Linked DNA regions of Homo sapiens: region 2 is linked to region 1. Evidence: fine-mapped expression QTL. A gene starts in region 1. The other region holds a variant in brackets. All regions are shown on one strand. Distances are from middle to middle. Region 1 holds the start of IATPR (ITGB1 adjacent tumor promoting lncRNA). Region 2 overlaps ITGB1-DT (ITGB1 divergent transcript).

Region 1 (5,381 bases):
TTTTGGAACAAGAGAAGAGCGGTTGAGCTTGTTTGGTGTGTGGGAAACAATTTTAAAGTGTGACAGATATTTCTGTAGCAGATTCTTCTGCAGCAACAGCCAGAGACTGGTTTATTGTTTCAGTAGGGAAGTAGGTATCTAAGTCAAAGGTAAGATGGGGCAGATATGCAGATTGTCTCCTCATCTATTTACGAGGTAACCTTTTTCTAAAGCCAGAAAAAAACAGCTAATCGTTGCATCTTCTGGTTGAGGTGGTAAACAACTCAGTTATCAACCGGCAGAGCATAGCTGTTGGTTTATAATTCAAGTCAACCGTGCAGGAAGGAGGGAAGTAGAGGAGATGCAGTTTCATTTCCCATTAACTCCCCTGACCTGAATTAAGGTGGGAACTGAGGAGAACATCTGTAAAAATAACAGCATGCAAACTGTACAAGGACAGGGCCATGCCCAGTTAACCCGCTGTTTGAGGTCTAAATACTTTTTGGTTATTGTGCAATATGAGTAAAACATCCTCAGAGATGAATCATAGCTCTAGAATTTTAGATTATCACTGCATATGACAATATAAAAAAATCCATGCTCCATTACACCAATTTAATAAAGCAATGTGGCATCTACCTGCCTGAACACCAAAGACACGCAACCTTATGAAAAGAAAAAAAAAATCCAAATATTCATTCTTAGAGAATCACGATTTCATTGACTGGATCAGTGTCGGCTGCCTTCAGTATAAAAACAGGACAACTTTGAATATATCAGAGACTCTCCAAATATCATCATGGAGATTTACTAGGAGCCTTCATAAATATAGTGAGTAATAAAGCAATTTCTAGGGACTATATAGTAATCTTGAATTCTGTGATTCATATAAATGTGAATTATTAATAGAAAATAATCAAAATGATTTAATAAAAGTACATGTGTTCACATAGAAAGGGGGAAGAGAGGCCGGGAGTGGTGGCTCACGCCTGTAACCCCAGCACTTTGGGAAGCTGAGGCGGGTGGATCACGAGGTCAGGAGTTTGAGACCAGCCTGGCCAACATAGTGAAACCATGTCTCTACTAAAAATACAAAAATTAGCTGGGTGTGGTGGCCTGTGTCTGTAGTCCCAGCTACTAGGGAGGCTGAGGTGGGAGAACCCCTTGAACCTGGGAGGTGGAGGTTGCAGCAAGCCGAGACCATGCCATTATACTCCATCCTGGGAGACAGAGTGAGACTCCGTCTCAAAAAACAAAAGGGGGTGGGGGGTGGGGAAGACAGCACTGCTTAGATATTAGAAAAAATCTGAGATTTCATTGCTTTTTCTATAAGTTATAAGGTGATACCATGGAACTGTGGGCAAGTCCCTCAACAATCTAAGCTTCCATTTCTTGATCTCCAAAACAGTGGCACCGAGGTTTGCCTTGCTTACTGCCTTGAGAAGTTCAGGAGAGACAGTGCTTGTGAAAGTGTGAGTCAATTACTATTTGTTTTCTTGCATGTGGCTTGTAAGGAAGTCAGATAACATAAGAGAAGTGAGTGACTGAGTGTTAAAGTGAATTACCAAGGATGCTGGAACTTGAAATGCTTTTGTGTGTAGCAATGCAGGCCGAGCTGCCACGTGCTATCCTGTGTGTCCCCGCTCTCCCCGCGTTGCAAGCCCGCAGAATGCCCCGCATCCACTGAGCCGTGGCCAGCCCTACGGTGGGCAAGCCTATCAAGCGCAAACATTGGGAGGGTTCTGACTCTCAAGTGTCTTACAGAAAATAGAGCCAGGAGCTCCATCTGGCACTCCATTTGCTAAATGTCCCATTGATGTCAAACGCCAGGAAATGTGGCTGTTTAAAATCCCAGGGAATAAGATTTCCACTCAGCAGCTTTCTAATGTACGCGCAGCACTCTGCGAAGCAAAAGCCCTTGCTGAGCAGTCTGGTCACAGCCCCTTACACACAAGCTCTCTGGGCCTCCACTAAGAAGTACAAAGACACAGGGCAGAGGAAAATGGACTTATCAGCTCCAGTGGCTTAAAATATGCCGGATGCCAATAGAGGGCACTGTTGCATATCCACAAAAGCCCACGCTCCGCAACCTAGCAAGACCACCAAAGCACTCACCTCCTTCCACACTCTGGCTGCAGTCCTAATGATGAACAGGAGCGATTAAAGTGGCAATCCCACAAAACACGGCTTCTGGTCAAAGTTCATGACTGCTTCATCACCACTTTGATATTTGCAAAGGGGCTTCATGATCATTTTCAGTCCTGAGTCATCTCCAGTACTTTTCTGCAGAATGCTAGATCTCTTAGCTTCACTTTTCAGAAGACTGAAATCCAGAGAGGTTAACTAGATGACTTGAGCCCATTCAGTCCAGAACTAGACAGAGATAGAAAACTCAGGGTTCCTGAATTCTACGCTGGAGAGTTTTCAGAACGGTGCATTGCGAGCTTTGAATGAAAAACATCAACAGCCTGCATCCGCTCTTGACTCTTTAGGGGAGGTTGTATGGCTTGGTGATTAACTGGGACTTCACAGGCAGGACTCCTGTCCCCACCACCTCCTAATTGTCGTTTATCCCAGTGGAAGTTGATAACTGATAACCAAACCTGCAAGTGAGGCCCATTCTGCAGCCCAAGAAGGAGTTAGGGAGGGATAGGAAACAGACACATAAAATCAGGCCAAATAGTGAAACTGATTGGAGTGCTTTGGGGTATCAATGTTGTATCCTAATTGTCCTTTATCACAGTGGAAGTTGATAACTGGTAACCAAACCTGCAAATGAGGCCCATTCTGCAGCCCAAGAAGGAGTTAGGGAGGAATGGAAAACAGACACATAAAATCAGGCCAAATAGTGAAACTGATTGGAGCGCTTTGGGGTATCAATGTTGTATCCTTCAGCGATCCCTCTCAACTATTAGTTAACTGAGAACAGATTGCCCCGAACTTGGGAGCTGTCAGATCTGTTTCTTGCACTCTCCCACCATTGACCCCTGACTCCTACAGAATCTCATTTTGCATCCCACATTCTGAAGGCATTGAATCATTTTTTTTGGCTAAGCACATGTTGGCTCTGGAGTCGCCTATATACAGAGTCTTTGCTGCTGCATTTGAGGCCTGGTGACATGTTATATTATGTAATGTTCTGGCAGTTAAGGAAAACTCACGCCCTCCCTGTTATGTATGAAGTGTCATCTCTAAAGCAGAGACTATTTCTTGCAAAATGGCATTGATAAATGGATAAACGAAACCAACTGACAACATCCCCGTAACAATGCAGTATCCTTCACTGCCAGTTTATTTCTAGAACACCATTAGGCAAAAAAGAAGGCTTTGTGGCCTAAGTAGGTGTTTTCATATATTTCGGAATGACAAATTAAGACGACAAGGATTTTCAGTCAGGCCATGACAGTAAATGTGCGCTTGTCACTTGTTGTAATGCTGTCCGGCAGGCCATAAGGGCCAGGCTTTACTGCATGGCACATTGGGGAGCCAAATCTCTCTGGTGGCATCTTTCTGTCTGGCACCTCACTCAAGTTAGAAAACTCAACCTAGAAAAGACTGTTGGTCCCTACATGGGCAAGTGTTACTTTCGCTATTACTAAACCCTGTGCCAGTCTTGGGGCAGTCGGAAAGGGTGGAGGAAAACAGGGTGCTTTGATGGCTCTGGCCTGGTCTCAAGTGACACACCCTAATCTGAAGGGTTTGTGCCCACATCCTCTCCGCTGCAGCTGGGTGGCTGTTGGCAATCACCTTTGCAAGCACTTGTGTGTACCATGCCAGCGGTTGCTCGTGCCAATTAGAACTCAGCTGGATCTTGATATAAATGGGCCATAGGCTAATCGTTCTGGGATACATCTTAAATTAGTCTGAGAGAGTCAGAGACCACTGTAAAACCATTTGGCCCAGAGTTTGTGCAAGTTTCTCTGATCCAAAATGGCACCTTGGTATCCAGCTGTCTTGGATGCAGACAACTCTTTCACCTCGGGTCATCATCAAATGCCAAACACAAAAGAAATCCTAACCTCTCACTTTACACAAGAGGAGGCCAAGGCTCAGAGAATTGTAAAGACTTGCCACCAGGTTGTGGCAATGTGCAGTGAAGAACACAGTCTATTTCTGGCATCAGAAGGGCTCAAGTTTGGTTCTCCCAGGCACTGTTTGACAGAACCTCCCTGAGTCTTGGATTACTTTTTGTAACCTTCTGAGTTGTTGAGCAGGTGACATGCAGGAACACAGATATTTTAGTGTGCCCCCAATTGCCTGGGATACTGGTTAAATATGCAGATTTTTGGACCCCTGGCCCCCACCAGAGACTTGGATACAGTTTTTCAGGTTTGTTTTTTGTGGAACACTGTAGGGACAAATGGGAGTGTTTGCTGTGTCAGTGGCACAGCCTCTGATCCTTGTTCTATTCACTGTTCGCCTTCTAGTTTCAGCTCAGCTGTAGACAGATGCACTCCTGAGAATGTGACTGAACTTTACTAAGTAGGAATCACTGTAAACCTTATTCACCATCTACTCCACCCCCACCACTCGTCTTTTCTGGGTCACTACTTCTCCCTTGCGTCTAGTCAGCATATAGAAATAAAGATTGTGTCTACCTTTATTATACCCACTAGAAGGCCTGACATAGAAAATAAACGTGAGCCCATACCTATTATAGAGAGCAGAGGCCATTATGCCTTAACTTGCTATGTTCTGTTGCTACCATAGAACTGGACAAAGATGGAACTTTCATTCTAGTGGCTGGTCCATGGAGATATTCTGTGGTATTCAAAAAATCTTGGGGCATCTTTAGGGTCTAACACTTCCATTATTCATGCAATGTGACGCACTTGTATTTGGCATTTAAGTATACATGCATGCAAATATTTTACCTCAAACACAATGGTACTAAATATATTTTTATTTCTAATTCTGACTACAACCAATTTTCTACCATTTTTCTAGAACCAGAAAAATCAAAGTCAATGAAAGTAGCGAGAAGAACATTCACTGTGTAGTTTTCTGTTGTGCCTACAATCTGAGTTATTTATTTTAAAATTACATACTTCAAAATATTCCAACCCTGCCCAAACACTTTATAAAGACTCAGCTTTAAAAAAAAAGTTCTGATTTTGTTTACTGAAAAGGCAAAATTACAATCAAGGAACATTGGAGAGAAAATAATCTGCTATTCAGACACATCAGCTGATTTTATTCTTTTCAATTTTCTTTTTGTCCTTGTCCATATACTTGCAATTCAAGGAGGTTTGTTTTCTAGTTTCAGCTCAGCCATTAATAAGTATGATCCTGAGAAAGGAGCTTAACTTTAATAAATAGGAATAAACGTTTGTCTTATTGATGCCATTGGGTAGTTGTGGGGATTCAGAAATAAGGCAGGTGAAAATGTTTTGCATACTATA
Region 2 (5,381 bases), 43 kb before region 1:
CAGGCCTCAATCAGTTCACCCACCTTGGCTTCACAAAGTGTTGGAATGACAGTCATGAGCCACTGCACCCAGCTGTGAAATGTTTTTAAATGTAAAAGTCAATGGGAAAAAATCCATGATGAACAAAATATTAACGTCATAAAGAAAGGCAGGATCTGCCCTCACGCTTGCACGGTGGAGCCTCTCTCATCTCATCCCGTCTTTGCCTGCCCCAACATTGGCTTAATGGGGACTGAGCAAACCAAGGCCCACCCCGCCCCCTGTAGCTGGGACCCTTACCTCTTGTTACCCTTGACTATAGTTTCTTTAACTTCAGAACACAACCAAAGATGCTTTGTTGGATTTTGGAATTCAGAAGGCTTGTTTAACACTAGGTTTGAACCTTATTAATTTCCTACTTCAGTGATTCTCTGCCAAGTCTTTTATACTCCTCTCAAGCTCTGTGTTTGATTAGAATACTTTCATTCCTTGAACTCAGACACTTCTTGGAGGGGGATCTTGCTGATTAGTTTGATGTCATGTGGCCCTGTCAACATTCCTTCATCTTTGCTGTTTTTTTTTTTTTTTTTTTTTTTTTAAATACCAAATGAAGGTGCACTTAGGTACGGAACTCTCTCTCTGGGTGGTGCTCCTTCCCTGGTCTCCTGTAGGGTTGGACCGGAACGCTCTCGGTGTTCACTTCTAGGGTCAGAACACATCTGGAGCAGGATTATGAAGCAGCATTTCCCCTGCAATCTGTCAAACTCGCCAACAACTAGAGAAATCACCCTGATTCCTGAGAGAGATTACCAGGAAGCCTTTTTCAGGGGCAGACGGGGTTATTTTGCCAGTGTAGCAGAAAAAAGGTAAATAACAGGTGTAAACCAAAAATAAAATTCTAAGCCTCCAGAATGACTAAATGGATCTCCCTCTTGGCCGAGGCATTCCAAAGTAAACCTGAAAAACTAGTTCAAGCTGTGATGGGAAGAGGGGCTTGTTGGATAGACCTCCTTATGCCCTCCTCCCTTTGGAATTCAGGCTCAACTGACCAGGGTTAACATTAAAACAGAGATCTTAGGACTGACAAAGCAGACTCTTTGTAGTGGGAAGACACCAAATTCCAACCTGACTCTAGTATAGCATCATAGGACAGATGGCAGGCCCTGAAAGACACTGAAGTATTTTACTCCAAAATAGATTTCTTTGACATCTTTTTAAATGGCCCTGAAAAACTGTCTTTTGTGAGGAAATCTACATTCTGTAGAGAATCCTCTTCCCTTTCTAGGTCTTTACCTCATCTGGGAGATATTTAACTAAGGGTTCGGCAAGTTTTTAGGTCTGATAAAAGACATTTGTTCTCTATTCTCTCTACAGCCTAGAGGCTTCATTTGCATAATGAAATCCCTGGTCTTCACAACCCCTTATCTTAACCTAGAAGACTTTCCTTTCTGTTGATTCCAGGTCTTTGGATAATAACTTAACGCTTTCAACTGATTGGCAATCAGAACATTTTTGAATCCACTATGACCTGGAAGCCATACCCACTCTCCCAGCCTGTCCCCCACAACTGCTTCCAGACCCAACCAATGTACACCTTACATGTATTAATTGATGTCTGCCTACAACTTCTGTCTCTCTAAAAGATATAAAATTAAGCTGTAACCCAACCACCTTGGGCACATGTTCTCAGGACCTCTTGGGGCTGTGTCACGGGCCTTGGTCACTCATATCTGACTCAGAATAAAGCTTCTGAAATATGTCACAGAGTTTAACTCTTTCCATTGACACAGGTGAGTTTGTGTTGCCCACTGCTTGTTATGTGTTACAGTAAGAACGAGATGATCCATTTGCAGAGCTTTGCCTTTTCTGTGGCCAGGTGGGCAGCTGAAGAGACTTGACATGTAGGCCAGTCATTCCATCTGTTCCCAACTCTTTCAGCCTCCTTCTGGGATCCTGTTTTTCCTGCCATCACCCAGCTGAACCCAGACTTTATTCTTTTATAACACACCCCCAGCACACAAATTTATGCACCTACACCAAATTCACTTGCCAGCCACCTCGTTCAATAGCTGTGAATATTTCTGTAGCCTCTTTCTTTTGTGAACTGCAAATAATGACCAGCCTAGTCTCTATGGTTATATTTAGGGGGAAAAGATTCTCTGTAGTAGATTTCTTTTATTAATTAATGTTCTATTTTTTCCATTCACTGATACCCTACATTTTATAGCTTCTAGGAAAATTATACTTGGTACAGTACTTTGACCCTAAATGTGTCCATGTGCAGGAAATAGTACAGTAATTGACACCCAGTTAGTGTTTAGTTAATCGTAGTTCTAAATTATGTGTCTAATGAAGAAAATTTGGAAATCACTTTGCTTAAGAATAAGGAAGTTTTGCAGGGCAAATGTATTAGTCTGTTCTCACGCTACTAATAAAGACATACTGGAGACTGTGTAATTTATAAAAAAAGAGGTTTAATGAACTCATGGTTCCTTATGGCTGGGGAGGCCTCACAATCATGGCGGAAGATGAAGGAAGAGCAAAGGGACTTCTTACATGGCAGCAGGCAACAGAGCTTGTGCAGGAGAACTCTTGTTTATAAAACCATCAGATCTCGTGAGACTTCACTCCCTATCATGAGAACAGCATGAGGGTAACCACACCCATGATTAAATTACCT[C/G]CCACTGGGTCCCTGCCACGACAAGTGGGGATTATGGGAACTACAATTCAAGATGAGATTTGGGTGAGGACACAGCCAAACCATATTAGCAAACATTTGAGCAAATGTGCTATCAACATTAAGAAGACCAACATCTAGGAGGCAGCACAGAGCTAATGCAAGAGCATTACACTTGGAGTCAGGATTGCTAAGAGCTCCTTGCAGATCTGCTACTGGGTGACTTGCAGATCTGCTACTGGGTAACTTCTCTGGGCCTCAGTTTCCTCATGTGTAAAACCAAGAGGACTGGCAGAAACACTAGCGGAGAGCCCTTCCGGCTCTAAGTCTGTGACACTTTGATGGCTCTTGTTCCTGGATGAAGGGACACCACTGGGAGAAATTTCTTCCTCCATAAGTCAACAAATTGGAATTAAAGTGCCTATGATTCCCTCCGTGAAGTTCGGTGCTGCCAACGATCACGATTCTCATGAACTCAATAAATTGTGCAATATTCTGGAAACAGCTGCCTCTCAGGGGTGGTGTTTAAGTCATCCAACTGGGAAAACAGAGGACACAAAATAATCGTAAAATGGTTTCAGGGAGACATAAGACTGACAGAAATAGAATCCCTGCTCTTTCTGGAATCGAACACTGCTGTTGCACCACAATTTCTGTGAGTTGGACCTAAAAGGAATGTCTTTACTTTTCAGGACTTGCTTTTTGTTCCTTAAAGAGCCAGGGAAATATGAAAGCAATCGATTTCTTCAGAATTCCAAAAGAAAGATATTGCTGTTTGCAAGACAAAGAAAAAAATTAAATGGAGATGGCAGCCTGTGTGTGCTGTTCCCTTCAGCAACGAGCAAACTGTGACCCAATTTGCAAGCCCTTGCAGGTTTGCAGGGTAGACCCTGGCGCTATCTCTTCCCATTAGTTTCTCTGGCAGTAGGACTGGCTGGGAGAAATTGGCTCAGTAGTACATCAGTAGTTATATTACACAGCAGCTGTGGAAAATTATTAAACTAACAGAGAGACAAATGGCTTGGGAGAGAATAAAGTTAGCAAGTCTGGAAACCCCCATTACAGTACATTATGTTGAGTTCCTTCTCCCTCTAGATTAAGACCCTGGTTCCTAAATGAGAATCCAAATTACAGCTAAACTTACTTTACTTACCTGTCTTCTTTTAAATTTGTTTCTCATTTTTCTTTGGCCAGTTAGAGATCATAGAACACTGTCCCATCTTATGCCATTTCTTTCCTCTTTGGTCTTGGACCATCTCTTCCTCTGTGCTGTCACTGGAGATATACAATTACACACGTTCAATCTCATGTGTTCCTCATACACACACACACTCATGTGGATACCCTGATATTCACTCTGCACACACATGCTCACATGCAAACACACCCTGTCTCACACACACTCATGGATGTGCACACACACTTTTGCACAATTTTTTTTTTTGAGATGGAGTCTTGCTCTGTTGCCCAGGCTGGAGTGCAGTGGCAGGATCTCGGCTCACTGCAACCTCCACCTCTCAGGTTCAAGTGATTCTCCTGTCTGAGCCTCCCTAGTAGCTGGGATTATAGGCTCGAGCCACCACGCCCAACTAATTTTTGTATTTTTAGTAGAGACAGGGTTTCACCATGTTGGCCAGGCTGGTCTTGAACTCCTGACCTCAAGTGATCCGCCTACCTCGGCCTCCCAAAATGCTGGGATTATAGGCATGAGCCACTGTGCCCGGTACATTTGCACACATTTTTGAGACTCCAGTGTCTGGGCTCTGGTTGAAAGGCCACTCTGAATTTTTTTCCACTCTCTGTGGTAGTTGGAACTATGTCTACTCCCAAGAGTTCAGACCACTCTGTTGAGAGTTCAGCATGTTTGTAAATGTAATTGGTTTATTAAACGGTATGAATTTAGTGAGAAACACACAAGAAGTATTTATTTTTCCTCCAAATGCAACCTTACAATATGTTCTGTTGAATCTGCATTTCATTTCTCTTAATGATAGGTCCCACAGCTTCTCGGTTATAATGCGGTTGGGGACCAGGCGCGGTGGCTCATGCCTGTAGTCCCAGCCACTCAAGAGGCTGAGGTAGGAGGATTGCTTGAGCCCAGGAGTTTGAGGCTGCAGTGAGCTATGATTGCACCACTGCACTCCAGCCTGGGTGACAGAGGGAGCCTGTCTCAAAAAAATAAAATAAAATGCAGTCGGGTCCAGATCAAAACTTAAATTTCTGGTCAGATTAGTGCTCATGTCCTTCTCCAAGAGCTGCCAGGCACGGAGAGTCTTGTCTAGAGGAGAGAGGAGTGGTTGGCTTTTTTATTTCTTTCACCTTCTGCTTATAGCCGCTGTGTAGTTGACATGAAACAAAGTGATTAGAGAAAAGGGACAAATGCTTTTATTTAGCTGCTGTTGTTGGAGCTCTCTCGGCTGTTTTTTTTTTTTAGATGGAGTCTCACTTTGTCGCCCAGGCTGTAGTGCAGTGGGGCAATCTCGGTTCACTGCAACCTCCACCTCCCGGGTTCAAGCAATTCTCCTGCCTTAGCCTCCCAAGTAGCTGGGACTACAGACACCTGCCACCATGCCCGGCTAATTATTGTATTTTTAGTAGAGACGGGGATTCGCCATGTTGACCAGGCTGGTCTTGAACTCCTGACCTCAAGTGTTCCGCTCACCTAGGCCTCTCAAAGTGCTGGGATTACAGGCTTCAGCCACTGCTCCCGGCCTTTCCTGGCTGT

What was found. PIP is the estimated chance that this variant, and not a neighbour inherited with it, causes the effect.
Region 2: its variant is fine-mapped to the expression of IATPR in whole blood (INTERVAL, PIP 0.93).

The regions. Positions count from the first base shown.
Region 1 is chr10:33,114,377-33,119,757 of GRCh38, forward strand. IATPR (ITGB1 adjacent tumor promoting lncRNA) reads right to left here and starts at 2,431. Exons shown (of 3, transcript NR_160030.1): 1 at 2,095-2,431.
Region 2 is chr10:33,071,053-33,076,433 of GRCh38, forward strand. The region is part of intron 2 of ITGB1-DT (ITGB1 divergent transcript); the gene reads left to right. It overlaps IATPR (ITGB1 adjacent tumor promoting lncRNA), which reads right to left. Exons shown (of 3, transcript NR_160030.1): 2 at 3,810-3,931; 3 at 2,974-3,194. Among named protein-coding and RNA genes, the nearest start is that of IATPR, 43 kb to the right of the region's middle. RefSeq lists an enhancer at 4,877-5,378. The variant C/G (reference allele first, on the strand shown) is at 2,660.